5 linked regions of the Homo sapiens genome follow. Changing the gene in region 1 together with any one later gene gives a genetic interaction. Each region holds a gene or a part of one and is shown in the gene's direction. Other genes may lie near its edges. The genes, in order: METTL17, GNL3L, NDUFB2, MRPL22 and EMC2.

Region 1 (2,367 bases):
TGAAAGCTTTCTGTGACCCAAGAAAGGTTTAGAATCACTATTTTAGGAGATTCTTATCCCATAAGGTATTTGTATTGAATCTCAAAAGGCATTCACATCTCACATCCTCTGTGATAGCCTCCTAATTCACATTTATCAAGGTCCTAAATAAGTATCTAATTACCCTACTGTGGGATGTTGTATATTTCTTCAGATCCGGGCTCGAAATCCAGCATTTCAGCCACAAACTTTGATGGACTTTGGCTCAGGTACTGGTTCTGTCACCTGGTGAGTAACTTTCTTCAGCCCTATCTTGGTCAATTTTAGCTCTAGAAAGCCATACTTACACCACTCCAAAATTAACAGACTGGAAAACCAGAGGGAGAATAGGCAAGTTGGGAATCTATAATGTTTCTTCCATCAGATTAGGCAAGGCAGAAGAAGGTATATGGATTGGGGCCAGAACTTAAAAGAAATGTCAAGTAAAAAAAGGCGCATGTGTAGAAAAATTAAAAAGAAAAGGAATTATCAATCAAAGTTGTTTTTGCCTACAAATAGTATTTTGAGTCTACCTTTTTTTTTTCTTTTTTGAAACGGTGTCTCACTCTGTCGCCCAGGCTGGAGTGCAGTGGCACAATCTCGGCTCACTGCAGCCTCCACTCCTGGGTTCAAGTGATTCTCCTGCCTCACCCTCCCGAGTAGCTGGGACTACAGGTGCACGCCACCACACCCAGCTAATTTTTGTATTTTTAGTAGAGACGGGGTTTCACCATATTGGCCAGGCTGGTCTCTAACTCCTGACCTTGTGATCCGCCCACCTTGGCCTCCCAAAGTGCTGGGATTACAAGCATGAGCCACTGTGCCCAGCTGAGTCTACCTTTTTTTTTTTAGGAGTTGTAAATAAAACAAGAAAATAACACTATTAGTTATTTTATTACTAACTATACAACTACTTTAACATAACACTCTCTTTTCCCAGGGGTGGGGTTGGGTGTAAATGGGCCTCTTGTAGAGATGACTCTTGGTCATGGGAATTGGTGATTTATAATAATTTTGCCATCTTAGGGCTGCTCACAGTATTTGGGGCCAGAGCCTACGTGAATATATGTGTGTGGACAGATCAGCTGCCATGTTGGTTTTGGCAGAAAAACTACTGAAAGGTGAGTGCAAGAGCACTTCCAAAGTTGAGGGAGTTAAGAAAGCAAAGGGGTACTAGTAAAAGTGTTTTACTGGGAAGTAGAGAAGAGGGTAAAAATTAAGATGAATCTGGTTTACTTTTAAAGTTATAGTCAAGCAAAGGGTGGTATTAGAGGTTTCTGCTGGACTGAGGATGGGTTGGGTAAGAATCAAAGGACAGGAGGCCTAATATTCTCCCTGCCCTTTTTTTTTTTTTTTTAATTAGAGGTAGGGTCTCCATATGTTACCCAGGCTGGTCTCAAACTCCTGGCCTCAAGCCATCCTCCCACTTCAGCCTCTAGGGTAGCTGGGATTACAGGCACGCACCGCCATACCTGGCTCATCCCTGCCCTTTTTGATATACACTTTACCTATTCTTGGGGCCATGTTTCTTATCTGGATATCTCTTCAGTTTATACCTAACTTCCTACACACTCACAGTTGCCTCTTCTTTTCTCCACAGGTGGTTCAGAATCTGGGGAGCCTTATATTCCAGGTGTCTTTTTCAGACAGTTTCTACCTGTATCACCCAAGGCAAGTGGCAGTGTTTAGAATATTCTAAATGTGGAATGTGGCAGATGGAAAACTATGGCTTGAGCTTTGCAGCCCAGCACTGAGTGTTAGAAGATAAAAGAAATTTAGCGGCTAGGACTTTGTTGTATTCTTGGGATGTAGAGATGTTGAGTCTGTCATGTTCCTTGTCTTGGTCCTCAGGTGCAGTTTGATGTAGTAGTGTCAGCTTTTTCCTTAAGTGAACTGCCCAGCAAGGCTGACCGCACTGAGGTAGTTCAAACCTTATGGCGTAAGACAGGTCATTTCCTGGTGAGTTAAAATTCCTTGTTCTCCTTAAGTCTTGAAGCAGCTTCATGGATTTCATGCCTTTGCTCCTCTCATTGTCTTTATTCTTCACCATTTTTCTCCTTCATGGGTTTCTTTATCCCTCTTTGAGGGTCTCCATCCTGATTATGTAATGCCTATTTCTTTTTAGGACTCCTTCTCCCTCTATGATTGCTCTTACACAGCTACTGACATTTATACTTTCGTGTAATTCAAGTCTTCTGCATATTTTCCCCTTTTGTGAACAGGTACTGGTGGAGAATGGAACAAAAGCTGGGCACAGCCTTCTCATGGATGCCAGGGATCTGGTCCTTAAGGTAAGGCTTCTTCTTCCCTCACTCCCCCACCCATATGGCACCAATTACTGTTACTCTC
Region 2 (3,374 bases), on another chromosome or scaffold:
ACTCTGCCTACAAAACTCTCTTAGACAGGTGAATATGCCACTAGAAGTTAGGTTGCTGGTAGACCTGGGGGTCCCTGCGGGAGGGTGATGGTTTCTTTACCACCCCACAGGAGATTTCAGTGGCAAGGCATGCCTGCAGTGGGCTTTGGGCCATGCATCTTCCAAGTCCATAGGTCTTCACCTGGGTGGCAGTGAGAAAAAGTAGAAAGTAATGAGCCTCCTGTGTCTCTGGAAGGTTCTAGGGATAGGGTAGAGGGAAGAAGAGAACAAACAAGCCTGGCTTGTGCTGAAGTGTGGTAGGCACTACCCTGTTTGCGTGAAGAGAAAACAAAGCACCTGTTAGTAGGGAGGCTTTAGGGGGAAGCCCCGTCTTGGGGGCATTTCTGGGCAGATTGTGAATTGGAGGAATCTCTTTAACTGAAGTACTCTGGCTGGACCCTGCCCTTGTGTGACCATGTCTCCTATTGCACCAGCATTTGAATTCCATGGCTCAAGAGGGTTCTGGTACCATTTATTCACAGACTGTATCCTCGAGAGAGCTGCTATATATGGGAGTGTACCAGCCAACTCCTTTTCCAGTGTCTGTAAGTCACCTCATTAAAGTATAATTAGCTGTCTCCTCTGGGAGATCCTACCCCATCAGACAAGGGCAGTGAGCCCAAGCAGTGCCAGAGGCCCTCAGAAAGGGATTAGGGTAGATGATTGCAACTGAAACACAATCTTCTTTCTTTGCCAGGGTATTTTGGGGGTTTTGCCCCAAAATATACCCTGGGCATAGCATTACTGCAGTCTTGGATGTCTACCCCAAACTTCCACACCATCCTTCGACCCACAGCTGCACCTTTATTTATTTATTTTGCTCTGTTGCCCAGGCTGGAGTGCAATGGCGTGATCTCGGCTCACTGCAACCTCTGCCTCCCGGGTTCAAGTGATCCTCCTGCCTTAGCCTCCCAAGTAGCTGGGATTACAGGCACCTGCCACCACGCCTGGCTAGTTTTTGTATTTTTAGTAGAGACGATGTTTCACCATGTTGACCAGGCTGGTCTCGAACTCTTGACCTCAAGTGATCCACTCGCTTCGGCCTCCCAAAGTGCTGGGATTATAGGCGTGAGCCACTGTGCCCAGCCTCACAGCTGCATCTTAACCTTACCTTTGCCTCTGCCTCTCAAGCTGGTACCTCCTAATTTACATCCTAAGAGTGGAACCATGTGACAAGGACTGGAGTGCCATTGGCTGTGGACTGTTCAGGCAGGGAAGTACAAGACCACTCTTGTATTCAGGGGCAACCAAAGGAGAGAATTACGTACTTGTTGAGTACAAACTGCACCAAGCCCTGGAGACCCATTACCACCGTTAACCCTCAATACAGCTCTGCTAGTAAGGGATTCGTCTCCCCAAATGAAAAAAAAAAGTAATCTCAGAATGTTGGCCGAGCATGGTGGCTCACACCTGTAATCCCAGTTATGCAGGAGGCTGAGGCAGGAGAATCACTTGATCTCAGGAGGCGGAGGTTGCAGTGAGTCGACATCACACCACTGCACTCCAGCCTGGGGGACAGAGTGAGACTTCGTCTCGGAAAAAAAAAAAAAAAGTTGACAGGATGGCCAGACCCAAGTGGGCGTATTAAGTGGTGGTGCTAGGATTGGAACCCAAGCGTGATTAAAACCCTATGCAGGCCCTTTCCTCTATATTGTACTGCCTCCTTAACAAAGGAAGATTGATTAAGCCCCTACTTTGTGCCAGTCTCTGTTATCAAGTCCGTTAAATGCATTTAACGTTAAATTTTTTCTTTTTTGGTTTAAAAAACTCTAGTTTCTTAAACTACTAGTTTTTAGTGTCTTGCTAAAACTATGTGCTCTTGAATAGGCTACAACTTATTTCACACTATCTCATTGAACTCTCCTGGTATGTGATAGTGTTATAATGAAAAATTGCATACCAGGACAGCTAAGTCTATTTTGCAACCATACAGCGTTTCATAATTTAGCATTTAAAATACAGACAGTCCCCGACTTTTGGTGGTTTGATGTGGGATTTTTGGTGGAAAAGCAGTATACATTCAGAATGCACCTCTACTTATGATGGGGCTACTTCCTGGTAAACCCATTGTAATGTGCAAATTACGGGTTTATCAGGAGGTGACCCCATCGGTAATGGAGAAGTGCTGGGAGGTAAATATTAGAAATGGAAGTATCTAAATGAGTAAGAAACAGCATGGGAGCATAATTTGGCCAAAATCAAACAGAACTAAAGTAGTCATGTCGGTAAGAATTTGGGACTGCAGGCCAGTTACGATAGCTCTCACCTGTAATCCCAGCATTTTGGGAGGCCGAGGCAGGCGGATCACTTGAGGTCAGGAGTTCAAGACCAGCCTAAACAATATGGCGAAACCTCATCTCTACCAAAAAAATACAAAGATTAGCTGGGCATGGTGTCTCATGCCTGTAGTCCCAGCTACCTATGGGGCTGAGGCAGGAGGATCTCTTGAGCCCAGGAGGTCGATGCTGCATTGAGCCGAGATTGTGCCACTGCTCTCCAGCGTGGGCAACAGAGTGAGACTGTCTCAGGGGGAAAAAAAAAGAGGAAAACAAAAAAGACGTTGGGAGTGCAGTTTCTCTACCTACAGCATATCTCAAAGGTTTTTTTTAAAAAAGTATTTTCTTAACTTTTTACCTTCATTTTTCAAAACAATTAGGGTACAATTTACATATAGTAAAGTTCACTCTTTATAGTTTTAGTTATGTGAGTTTGTACAAACATATACAGGAGTGAACCACTACCACAATCGAAATATAGTTGCATCACCCCCCTAAAACTCTCCAGGCCCTTTTGTAGTCAACTCCTACCCCCGACCCTCAGATTCTGCTAACCACTGATTTGTTTTCTGCCCCTATAGTTTTGCTTTAGTATGACTGTCATATCAATAGAATCATACAATGAGTAGGCTTATTTTATGCCTTCAGGTTTTAAAAATTATAAACATTTACATTACAGTAAAATTCACTCTGGTATACAGTTCTATAAAGCTCTGATAAATGTGTAGAGTTGTGTAACCACCAATGCAACCAAGGTACAGAACAGTCCTCTTAGCCTCTCCCTACCAAATTTATTCCTGCTACTTTGTAGTCAAAACCAGTCCCCTACACCCAAACCCTGGCAGTCACTGGTTTTTTTCTTCGTTCTCTTTTTTTTTTTTTTTTTTTTGAGACAGAGTCTAGCTCTGTTGTCCAGGCTGGAGTGGTGCAGTGGCGTGATCTCGGTTCACTGCAACCTCCGCCTCCAGGGTTCAAGCGGTTCTCCTGCCTCAGCCTCCCGAGTAGCTGGGATTATGGGCGCCCGCCACCACGCCCAGCTAATTTTTGTATTTTTAGTAG
Region 3 (3,589 bases), on another chromosome or scaffold:
TCTCTTTCCCCACACCTCATGTAGCTATCCTGGTGGAGGTTCAAGGGCTCCCGGTGAAGGCAGCTTCAGTGATTGATTGCTTAGCTTCCAGGCCTTGTTTTTACTTGAATTTTGCTCTTGGTGGATTCCTTCCTTTTGTGCCTGGTCAGTGATGTTTGTAAAAATCTTAAAAATCTCATCTAGCAGCAGAGTTGTTAATTTGGAGGGTTGTTCAGGGTATCTAGTTTGCCACAATGCAGTTCACAACCTGGTTTGGAACATAACATTGTGAATTAGGTGTTGAGTCTTTGCATTCCTTAATCATGGCAATCCTTGTCATTGTTCCTGTGATATAATTGCAGACTTTCAAATCTTTGTTCCAAAAGGTTTCCATTTTGCAGTCCCTACTTCAGGTTATGATTAAAACAACATGTCACTCTAGCAATAACGAAGCGTGGGGAGCTGCTAAGATGGGTTTGAACTATAATGCTGGCATCGGCATTACTCAGATCTTTTTTGTTTTTTTGATACAGAATTTCGCTCTTGTTGCCCAGGCTGGAGTGCAATGGCACGATCTCAGCTCACCACATCCTCTGTCTCCCAGGTTCAAGTGATTCTCCTGCTTCAGCCTCCTGAGTAGCTGGGATTACATGCATGTACCACCATGCCCAGCTAATTTTGTATTTTTAGTAGAGACGAGGTTTTTCCACGTTGGTCAGGGTGGTCTCGAACTCCCGACCTCAGGTGATCCGCCTGCCTCGGCCTCCCAAAATGCTGGGATTACAGGCATAAGCCACCGTGTCCGGCCTTCAAATCTTGTTTTAATCAGTTTTACTGCTGGGCACTTATACCTAGATTGTATCAAAAAGCTATCAAAGAAGAAGGCTCTTGGCCGGGCACAGTGTGGCTCACGCCTATAATCCCAGCACTTTGGGAGGTCAGGGCAGGCGGATCACCTGAGGTCAGGAGTTCGAGACCAGCCTGGCCAACATAACGAATCCCTGTATCTACTAAAAATACAAAAATTAGCCGGGCATGGTGGCACATGCCTGTAATCCCAGCTACTCGGGAGGCTGAGGCAGGAGAATTGCTCGAACTGGGAGGCAGAGGTTGCAGTGAGCCAAGATTGTGTCACTGCACTCCAGCCTGGGTGACAGAGTGCGACTCCGTCTCAAAAAAAAAAAAAAGCTCTTGTTATACTATATTGAATGATCCTGCATGGTTTATTTACATAATGTAATATCTATATGCACAGCTAGATCCTGAATGAATAATATAATTGGTATATGAGGACATTACGGAAACAGTATGCTACGTCATTCAAGTTGTAAAGTGGCGATATTTGGTAGGACCTTTTAAACATGATACTTAAAAAAGTACATATATACACACATCTGCAAAAACTAAAAATCACCTTATTCATAATTAGTTATTAATACCTTAAATAGAGCATTCCAAATAAAAGTGTTAAATTTTGGATGACTATTTAGAAAAAAAAATGGAATTTATCATTTCAATATGGTAACATTGGTTTTATCATGCTGGTTGGAATTCTAGTTAAAAGTTATGTCTTTGATTAATAAAAGGAGAAAATTGTTAATGGTGTGTGTCTGTAGGCAACAGCTTAGGCTTTGCCATCACACAGCATCTCACTGGTAAATCATTAATAATTACAGGCCTTATCATAACATTATGAAAATTAAATGAATTAAAACTTATAAAATGCTTAGTGTGGTATCTGGCACATGGTAAACACTCAATAACTACCAGTCATCTTTTAGAGTGGGGGAGGATAAAAACAGTCTGCCAGCCTGGCAACATAGGGAAACCCTGTCTCTACAAAAAAAATATAAAAATTAGCCAGGTCTGGGGGTGTACACTTGTATGTAATCCCAGCTACTTGGGAGGGAGGCTGAGGCAGGAGGATTGCTTGAGCCCAGGAGGTGCTCAGTCAGCAGAAGGATCGCTTGAGCTAAGGTCACGCCACTGCACTCTAGCCTGGGCGACAGAGCCTATCTTTAAAAAAACAAACAAAACAGCCGGGCACGTGGCTCACGCCTGTAATCCCAGCACTTTGGGAGGCCAAGGTGGGTGGATCACCTAAGGTCAGGAGTTCGAGACCAGTCTGGCCAACACGGGGAAACCCCGTCTCTACTAAAAAAAAAACAAAAATTAGCTGGGCATGGTGGCGTACACCTGTAGTCCCAGCTACTTGGGAGGCTGAGGCAGGAGGATCGCTTGAACCCAGGAGGCGGAGGTTGCAGTGAGCCAAGATTGTTCCATTGCACTCCAGCCTGGGTGACAGAGTGAGACTCTCGCAAACAAACAAACAAAGAAAACAAACAGTCCTAGCTAACATGTATCAAGAACCACTGCCCTGTTACTGTTCACGAATCTGTGCATTATGAAGACAAGATATTTTAATGCACTTTTCCTACAGGTACGAATTTCTGTGCTACATAAAAGAGAATATGGTTTACAAGCTGATTCTTATCTAGATGAAATTGGTAAACATATTTTATATAGGAATTCTCTTAAAAATTTTTTATCCACTTCTGTTTATTAGCATATATATGGCTGATGAATAGGTTTTAGGAATAGCCCCAGTAGGTGCAAATAATTTAAATTAGATGCAACGTATAATATTTATACTCCAACTGAATAAATTGACTATAACTCTTATGGACTCTGTGCCACAACTTGTCAAGTGTCTGAATGAAAAGAAGAAAAAAGAAACACGTATTCAAACTTACTGTTTAAAGTTCTTTGTTCAGAGCCATTAGCATATTTAATAGGATTTGCGAGTCCTCTCTCCCATATGGTTGTCTTTTAATAAAGATTGTAATAGGCAGAGGACATAATTTGCCTCAAATAGATAGCTAAACAAAGCAAAATTAATTTATTTTTCTGAGTAAGTTAGTGACCTGCTAACAAGTTCACAGTCCCTTAACTAAAACCTTTGGGGCTAGCACCCCAGAATCAACACATTCAAATTTCTAGTGCAAAATAATGAATCTTCACTAATTGAAAACCAAAATTAGCCTCTTGTCAGTTTTGGTCAGTTTTTGCTGCTACACATGAAGCAAGCTTAGTAAAAAGTGAGTATTTCAAGGGATTGTGAACTTCTGTCTATATTTCAGTGGAGATGAGAAACATTAGCGTTGGTTCTAGGATGTAACTCAGAGGAGTTTTGGATGACTTAACGCTTTGAGAATGTAGCACGCTGTCTGCCATGTTGTTTTGTCTTGCAGTGCCGGTGGTGGTGTGCACATTGAGCCCCGGTATAGACAGTTCCCCCAGCTGACCAGATCCCAGGTGTTCCAGAGCGAGTTCTTCAGCGGACTCATGTGGTTCTGGATTCTCTGGCGCTTTTGGCATGACTCAGAAGAGGTGCTGGTAAGTGCAGGAGAAGAGCACTTGTCGTTTTTTGGGTGGGGGAGGGAGGATGTATTAATAGCTTGTTTATTTTTCTGTTGTAGACCATTTTTCTGTCTGGACATCGCCCTTTGCCACCACTTTTTCCATATGTATATACAAGAATCCTGTTATTTAATGAAACATGTTATCTTCTCACCTTTTTTTACACGAGGATGTATATTTAGGTGGTCCG
Region 4 (3,589 bases), on another chromosome or scaffold:
CCTCCACCTTTGTTACTTTATTTGCTTGATACGTACTGAGACTTTGTCTCGTTTATCTTTAGAAAGTGCCCTTAGACATTTCACCTGCCCAAAGTAAATGCTGAGGTTTTTTTTCAGTTTTGGAAGAGGATGATTAACTTTTGCCTTTCTTGTAAACACTTCTTCCTTTTTGCCATCCTCTGGTCAGGATTACCATTGTTTATATGTGTAAAATTTGAGGGTAATCATACAAAATTAAGGTTTAAAATTATCCCACCACAAGAATGCACAAATTAAAGGGTCTCTTCTTTTTTATTTTTATTTTTTTGAGACGGAGTCTCGCTCTGTCGCCCAGGCTGGAGTGCAGTGGCGCAATCTCAGCTCACTACAAGCTCCACCTCCCGGGTTCATGGCATTCTCCCGCCTCAGCCTCCCGGGTAGCTGGGACCACAGGCGCCGGCCACCATGCCCGGCTAATTTTTTTTTTTTGTATTTTTAGTAGAGACGGGGTTTCACCATTCACAGGATGGTCTCGATCTCCTGACCTTGTGATCCGGCCGCCTCGGCCTCCCAAAGTGCTGGGATTACAGGCTGAGCCACTGCTCCCGGCCAAGGGTCTCTTCTATATGAAAGATTTCATTGAGTGGATTAATTTTTGCAGATTATTATTATCAGTCATGATAGTTCTTTCCTCTCCCTGTCTCCCCAAGAAACTTTATTGCTGAAAATGTAATTAGGCTATTGCTATAGTTTCAGGCTGTCTGCTTCTATTGCAACTGAAATCTGCCACATATTAAAAGATGGCCACTTGAGAAAACTGCTCTTTCTAAGGCATTTGAAAATTTCCAGCAGGAGTCAGAATGTTAGAAAGTTTTGAGACCTCCTTGCTATAGTTTTCCATAACACATGTTTTCTAATTTTTTTTTAAATGGCAGTTTGGTATAGTAGTGGAAAGAAAGTGGGTTTTAGAGTCAATAGAGGAACTTTTGAAAGTAGATGTGCTAGACATTGTATCAGGTGTATCATACTTCTCTGTTCTTTGAATTCCAACTTTGTCTCTTGCAAACCTCTGGTCTTAGACAAGTCACTTGATTTCTCTGATTTTCAGTTTATATGTAAAATGTTTCATCCCTCAACTCATAGAGTTAGACTAAATGAAATAATGAGTGAAAAGTGCTTTTTGAACTATACATTGTAATTAAACAGGACATACCTACAACTTTAAATAGAAGATAATAAAAGCTAACATTTACTGAGAAGTTACCATGTGCCAAGCACTATAAAATGGTTTCTTGAAATAGGTTACTTTATTTCCCTCTAATTATCGTTTTATTTATTTTACAGAAGAGGAAAATTAGAGAGAGGTTAAGTAGCTTGCTCAAGATTATGTAGCTAGTAAATGGCAGAGTTAGGATTCAAATCCAGGCAGGCAGTCTGATTCTAGAACCTATGCTGTTGGCCAAACACCTAGAATATTGGCTTTTCACATGAAAACACTTGTCCATTTTGCCATTTTTCTCCTCATTAATAATGAACGTTTTCTTGTACTTTTTCTTTTGTTCTTTTAATCAGCTAAATGTTTTAAAGATACTTTCATTTAAATCTTTTAGGATTTCTTTGGATAGAAATGTTGCAAGTGTTGACACAAACCAGCCATTGTATAGTTTCTATTTCTCCCGTAGTAATCTTTTAACATAGTGAGACTTTGGAAAAATACAACTTTGTGTAGGGGAAAATAATCTCTAAATTCTTAGTAATGTTTCTATTTCTTATGGCAGCATTTTCTTTAGGCCTAGAAAGTAAAAACTTAAATAACAGTATATGTTATTGTCATTTTGTGGTAAACCTGCTAACATTTTCTTTCTGTCCTTTTTTTTCCAATTTGTAAGGAAATCTACCACTGTCGAAGACAAATAAAATATAGCAAAGACAAGATGTGGTATTTGGCAAAATTGGTAAGCTGCAATGACTATTACCATATAATTAATAATTTAGGAAAGAAGCTATGAGTTCCCCTCCCCACCCCTCACCCCAGGATTTGAAAAATAAAAAAGATTTGTGAGGAATGTGATATAATTGGTAGGTTGTCAAAAGAATGATTGTTCAGAGATGTATGATTTTCCTTAATTTTCACCTTTTTCTGAGAAACTAAATCACATTGGATAGATAGATACTAAAAGGCATCAGGAGTTTGGCTATAACCAGAGAATCCAGGAAACCCACCTATTTATCTGTAAACTTGATTCAACCTGTTTTAAAACTGTTGCTTTTAAGTTTTTTTCCCTAGGAAATGAAATTTATAGATGAGGGGAGACTGAAGCAGCAAATATACATGTAATACATTTATCCTATAGGAGAAGGAGATGCCTTGAATGCCTAGTGTGGTTGTTACCAACCTGTGGTCTCTCTGTCATGTTTGCTGTCTTTTAATGTTATTGAAACTATTATAATCTCAGTTTTATGGTTAAAATGTTTGTTTCATTTTGACTGAAAGAGAATAGTGTCTCCTCTCAAACTTGTTTTCTTCTCTTTTATTTGGGTTCAATTCACTGTTTTTAGAAGTTACTCAAATTATGTAAGACTTTCATTGAAAAGGAAACATTGACTTTGTAAACTAATTTATTTTCTTTTGTCTCTCACCCTTTAATTCTAGATACGAGGAATGTCTATTGACCAGGCTTTGGCTCAGTTGGAATTCAATGACAAAAAAGGGGCCAAAATAATTAAAGAGGTAAACTTACAAGTTTGGGTGTGGTAGGGAATGGGGAACTGGGGAATGCAGCTGTCTTGCAATTATTAGTAAGCTTAGCCTAAATCATGAATTCCCTAAATTTTCTGTTGTAAATGCATACTTTATATAATACAGATTTAGGGTTCTCAGTTTATTAAATATGTGTATACTTTAGGAATGTTGTGTGCTTTAGGGTTTATTTCCTGAGGTGCTTTTATTTCCACCAAATATTTATCTGTTTTTTACTGCTTATGATGTGATGAATCTTATTTTTAATGATTTGGGGCTTGGTACGTATATGTGTGTATTTGTGTGTATGTATGTGTGTTTGTGTATATAATTTATTTCTTGGAGCAAGGCTGAACTTCAAGGTATATTTTTTTGAAGATTTTTTTTTTCCTATAAAGGAGAGTTTTTATAACTAAGTAATTTTGTAACTAAATGGAAAGAGCCCTGGACTGGAACTCAAGAGACTTGGACTCTAGTCCTTTCTCTGATCTTTTTCTTGTGACCGTGGGCAAGACACTTAACCAGTCAGTTTCTATTTTTCTCACCTAAACTATGTGGAATTGGATTAGATGACCCCTAAAGATCCTTCCAACTCTAAATGTAGCTAATTCACTAGATACAAATGTGCTGATGGTAATTGTGGTGACTCTTTCTAGGAACATGAATATTCTTTTTTTATTACATATATTTTTCTTTTTTTTTTTTTTTTTTTTGAGACGGAGTCTAGCTCTGTTGCACAGGCTGGGGTGCAGTGGCGCCATCTTGGCTCACTGCAGTCTCCGCCTCCTGCGTTCAAGCGATTCTTCTGCCTCAGCCTCCCGAGTAGCTGGGACTACAGCTGCGCGCCACCATACGCGGCTAATATTTTTG
Region 5 (3,589 bases), on another chromosome or scaffold:
TCAGGATTCAGCTACAGAAACTAATCTAATGGTTTAGAGTGTAGGAAGTGAGGGAATCATAATGTTAAGCTGTAGCCAGAGGGGTCAGAGACAGGTTACCAATTCCTGAAGCTTGTTACTTCTATGATGTTACCTGTGTTTGATCACTTAATCTTTCTGAACAGGTCATGAGAAGTTTGCCAAATTAAGTTAATTACAGAAGACAAGAAACACATCATAAATCAAGTACTAAGTGCTTAAGACAGCATTGTTACTTGAAGAAATGATCATTCACTTGAAAATGTATTGAGTGGTTTGATGTTAACTTGAAAACACTAGATGTTGCTAATACCAAGTATTTTAATCATATTTAACCAGGGAGAAAATGGGTAACATATATATATATAAAATATATACATAATATATAATTAATATATATACATATATATAATATATATAGGTAACATATATATATAAAATATATACATAATATATAATTAATATATATACATATATATAATATATATATGTATATATATATACACACACACACACATACACACACAATAAACTTTCTCCCATCTCCATCAAGGAACACTTACTTATCTAGTAAATCTTTTGTTTTAAATCAGACTGATAAATGATGGGAATTGTCAGTCCAGTTAACAAACTCATTTTGAAATCAGCATGTGGTATTCAACAGTGTTTCCCTCCAGCGGTTATGTGTATGATATTGAATTTAATATGCCATGAATTTGCTTTTAAATACACAAATATAGGGTATATTTTGTGTATATATTGATGTATTTATTTTGTTTTCATAGTAAAATCCAATCCCAATTAGTTTTATAATGTAAATAAATTACAATTAATAAAGTAGAAATGCATATTTTAAAACATGTTTACATTGTTTTAATGTGTAGCATAGGTTTTTACTTGACAGCTCTTTGCAGAACCATATCATTTAGTTAACTAATAAATCTGGAAACTTAAAAAAAATTATGAGCTACTTTAAATAATTTTAGAGAGTACTTGCAACTTTAAAATGTTTAGTGAAATAACTTGTATTTGTATTGTACCTTTGTTTGAAATTGTAAAAATCTGTTTAGACATCAGACAAGTGGAAGTGGTTCACACTGCTACACTACATAAATATAAGCTAAATTGCATTTTAAAATTATACTTTTTATTTCATTATTTTGGTCTGAATAAGATAGTTTCAAATACATGATTTTATGGGTTATTATATTATGTAAACACTTAAACTGGCCAAGTGTGCAGTGAACTCTCTGTACACTTCAGCTGAAGGTAAGACCTTAAAGGAAAATGTCCTTAATACTCAAATTTTATTCTTATTGAAAAAGCAAAGAATATATTTGATTTCCTACTAGTGATAAAATAGTCAATGTTAAGTTTCATTAACAGTGTGAAGATTGTCATTTTTAACCTGCCACTGAAATTGAGCCTAATTGAGCTTTTTTTTTTTTTTTTTAATTAGTTTGCAGGTCGAAGTAAGAAGGAAACCAAATATTCTCTTAAGGCTGTCGAAGACATGTTGGAAACATTGCAGATCACCCAGTCTTAAGGTTTCAAAAACTCTTTGACATTAGATTTCACAACTGCACAATTGAACTTATTGGCCTGTAACTTATTTACTAAATGCTCAGTGCTATTTATATACTACAGTAATTTTCTGTTAAGAAGGCAGTTGTAAAGAATGTGTTTATATAAACCTAAAAATGCCTTTTACTGCTAAGTGGGGAGATGGGGGAAATCCATGGAAGAGAGATTTAAGACTTATTGATTGTACATCAGTCTCTTCATATCACATATACATGTATATATATAAAACTCTAATGTAGTATAACCTTGTTAAATAAACCATGATGATTTATTAAACTTGCATATGAAGATTCTAACTTCATTTTGTTATACTCACAGTGGATATATTGTTTAAGAACTCAGTTTCTAGTTAACTCCTTACTGGTGATAGCAAAGTCACAGCATATGTAGCTGACCGAAGCAGATTATTTTGACTTTGTTTATATTGTCGAATTGGATTTTGCTGTACATTCCAGTGGGCTATTTGAATTGTTTTATCTGCTGTAATATCCTTCTGATGAATCTTGCTTAAAATATGTCATTCTCCAAAGTTCAGCAATATTTCTTTGTAAAATTTTTGTTTTGATATAGGACATAATTGAGATTTTTACATATAAAATGCCTTAAGATAAATATGTGTTACGACACTTTAACTTTTATGCAAGTTATATTTATTGAATCCTTTAATAGTAAATTACATGAAAGAATATTAAAGAATCATAAAGAGTAGGGATTAAAGGGGTTGTAGTTATTTTTAATTTTGAAAAAAATAAGAAAATTAAAACTATCCTTAGAAACAAAAATGTTAAAATTTTCCTATTCTATCATTACCTTAGTTAGAATTTTTTATTTTTCTCTTTTCATAATAAACAACCATTATGCTACCTTCAACAGTATTTGACATGTTTCAACAAAATAGAAGAGACTTGAAAGTTAAATTTCATTTAGACACAAATCAGTTTTTAAAATAGCAACTGTTCACCGCAAATATTTATGGTATTTGTTTATAATAAATATATTTAAATTTATTTTTACTAAAAATATACAGAGGCATCTACAGACTTGTCATTGCTGCTTTGGACAAGTGGGGATTGTGGAGGAATTGACAATCTAGAAGTGTTTAGAAAGAAAAGTATTGTCAATATCAGCTTCTTTTAACCTTTTGAATAGTTCTGCTAATAAATTATTCTCCATATCTAGTCTAATCTTTCATATTACAGTCATTTTCGTTTTATTCTGCCACGAGTAATAGGCAGCTGATTAATATATTCTGTGAAAGAACTCTTCTCATCTGAAGGTAATTCTCTACTAATCTTTATTACCACAAAGATCCCGTCTTTGTACACATGAAATTAGTAACTGCATTTTCAACATGATGAACCATTTGAAATTTACATTTTCTGTAAAGAAAATAGTGCCTGCACGTTGTTTCACTACCTTTTCCCCTTCAAACCTCCTCCCCGTCAGTCACTGGATTAGTGTTTACTCTAGCAATTATATTTGTGTAATAAGTAATTCAGTGCCTCTTATAGCTGTCTGCCTTAGTTTCACTTTTTTTTTTTTTTTTTTGAGACAGTCTCGTTCTGTCACCCAGGCTGGAGTGCAGTGACGTGATCGCAGCTCACTGCAACCTCCTCCCGGGTTCAAGCGATTCTTGTGCCTCAGCCTCTGAGTAGCTGGGACTACAGGCATGTGCCACCATGCCTGGCTAATTTTGTATTTTTAGTAGAGATGGGGTTTCACCATGTTGGCCAGGCTGGTCTGAAACTCCTGGCCTCAAGTGATCTACCCGCCTCAGCCTCCCGAAATGCTGGGATTACAGGCATGAGCCACTGAGCCTGGCCAGTATCACTTTATTTTTTCAAAATTTTAATAACTTCTTTCCAAGATTTTATATTTGTTAAGCACATTGCCAATCCTTAGTTATTTATAAACTTCAACTTAAATGTACTGATAATCCCATTACAGCAGGCAGTTGCCTACAGCTATTACCTTTATTTCTTCTTTA

What was found.
Region 2: changes in METTL17 (region 1) and GNL3L together harm fitness more than expected from each alone (negative genetic interaction), as found in Homo sapiens cells (one large-scale study listed by BioGRID).
Region 3: changes in METTL17 (region 1) and NDUFB2 together harm fitness less than expected from each alone (positive genetic interaction), as found in Homo sapiens cells (one large-scale study listed by BioGRID).
Region 4: changes in METTL17 (region 1) and MRPL22 together harm fitness less than expected from each alone (positive genetic interaction), as found in Homo sapiens cells (one large-scale study listed by BioGRID).
Region 5: changes in METTL17 (region 1) and EMC2 together harm fitness more than expected from each alone (negative genetic interaction), as found in Homo sapiens cells (one large-scale study listed by BioGRID).

Annotation. Positions count from the first base shown.
Region 1 is NC_000014.9:20,992,925-20,995,291, forward strand, and holds part of METTL17 (ribosome assembly protein METTL17, mitochondrial isoform 2 precursor), read left to right. Parts: intron 1-193; coding exon 194-267; intron 268-1,044; coding exon 1,045-1,139; intron 1,140-1,618; coding exon 1,619-1,689; intron 1,690-1,869; coding exon 1,870-1,977; intron 1,978-2,240; coding exon 2,241-2,309; intron 2,310-2,367. UniProt on the Homo sapiens protein: Mitochondrial ribosome (mitoribosome) assembly factor. Binds at the interface of the head and body domains of the mitochondrial small ribosomal subunit (mt-SSU), occluding the mRNA channel and preventing compaction of the head domain towards the body.
Region 2 is NC_000023.11:54,561,219-54,564,592, forward strand, and holds part of GNL3L (guanine nucleotide-binding protein-like 3-like protein), read left to right. Parts: 3' UTR 1-3,374.
Region 3 is NC_000007.14:140,699,636-140,703,224, forward strand, and holds part of NDUFB2 (NADH dehydrogenase [ubiquinone] 1 beta subcomplex subunit 2, mitochondrial precursor), read left to right. Parts: intron 1-3,230; coding exon 3,231-3,375; intron 3,376-3,589. UniProt on the Homo sapiens protein: Accessory subunit of the mitochondrial membrane respiratory chain NADH dehydrogenase (Complex I), that is believed not to be involved in catalysis. Complex I functions in the transfer of electrons from NADH to the respiratory chain.
Region 4 is NC_000005.10:154,954,503-154,958,091, forward strand, and holds part of MRPL22 (large ribosomal subunit protein uL22m), read left to right. Parts: intron 1-1,868; coding exon 1,869-1,934; intron 1,935-2,632; coding exon 2,633-2,710; intron 2,711-3,589.
Region 5 is NC_000008.11:108,485,035-108,488,623, forward strand, and holds part of EMC2 (ER membrane protein complex subunit 2), read left to right. Parts: intron 1-1,477; coding exon 1,478-1,564; 3' UTR 1,565-3,589. UniProt on the Homo sapiens protein: Part of the endoplasmic reticulum membrane protein complex (EMC) that enables the energy-independent insertion into endoplasmic reticulum membranes of newly synthesized membrane proteins.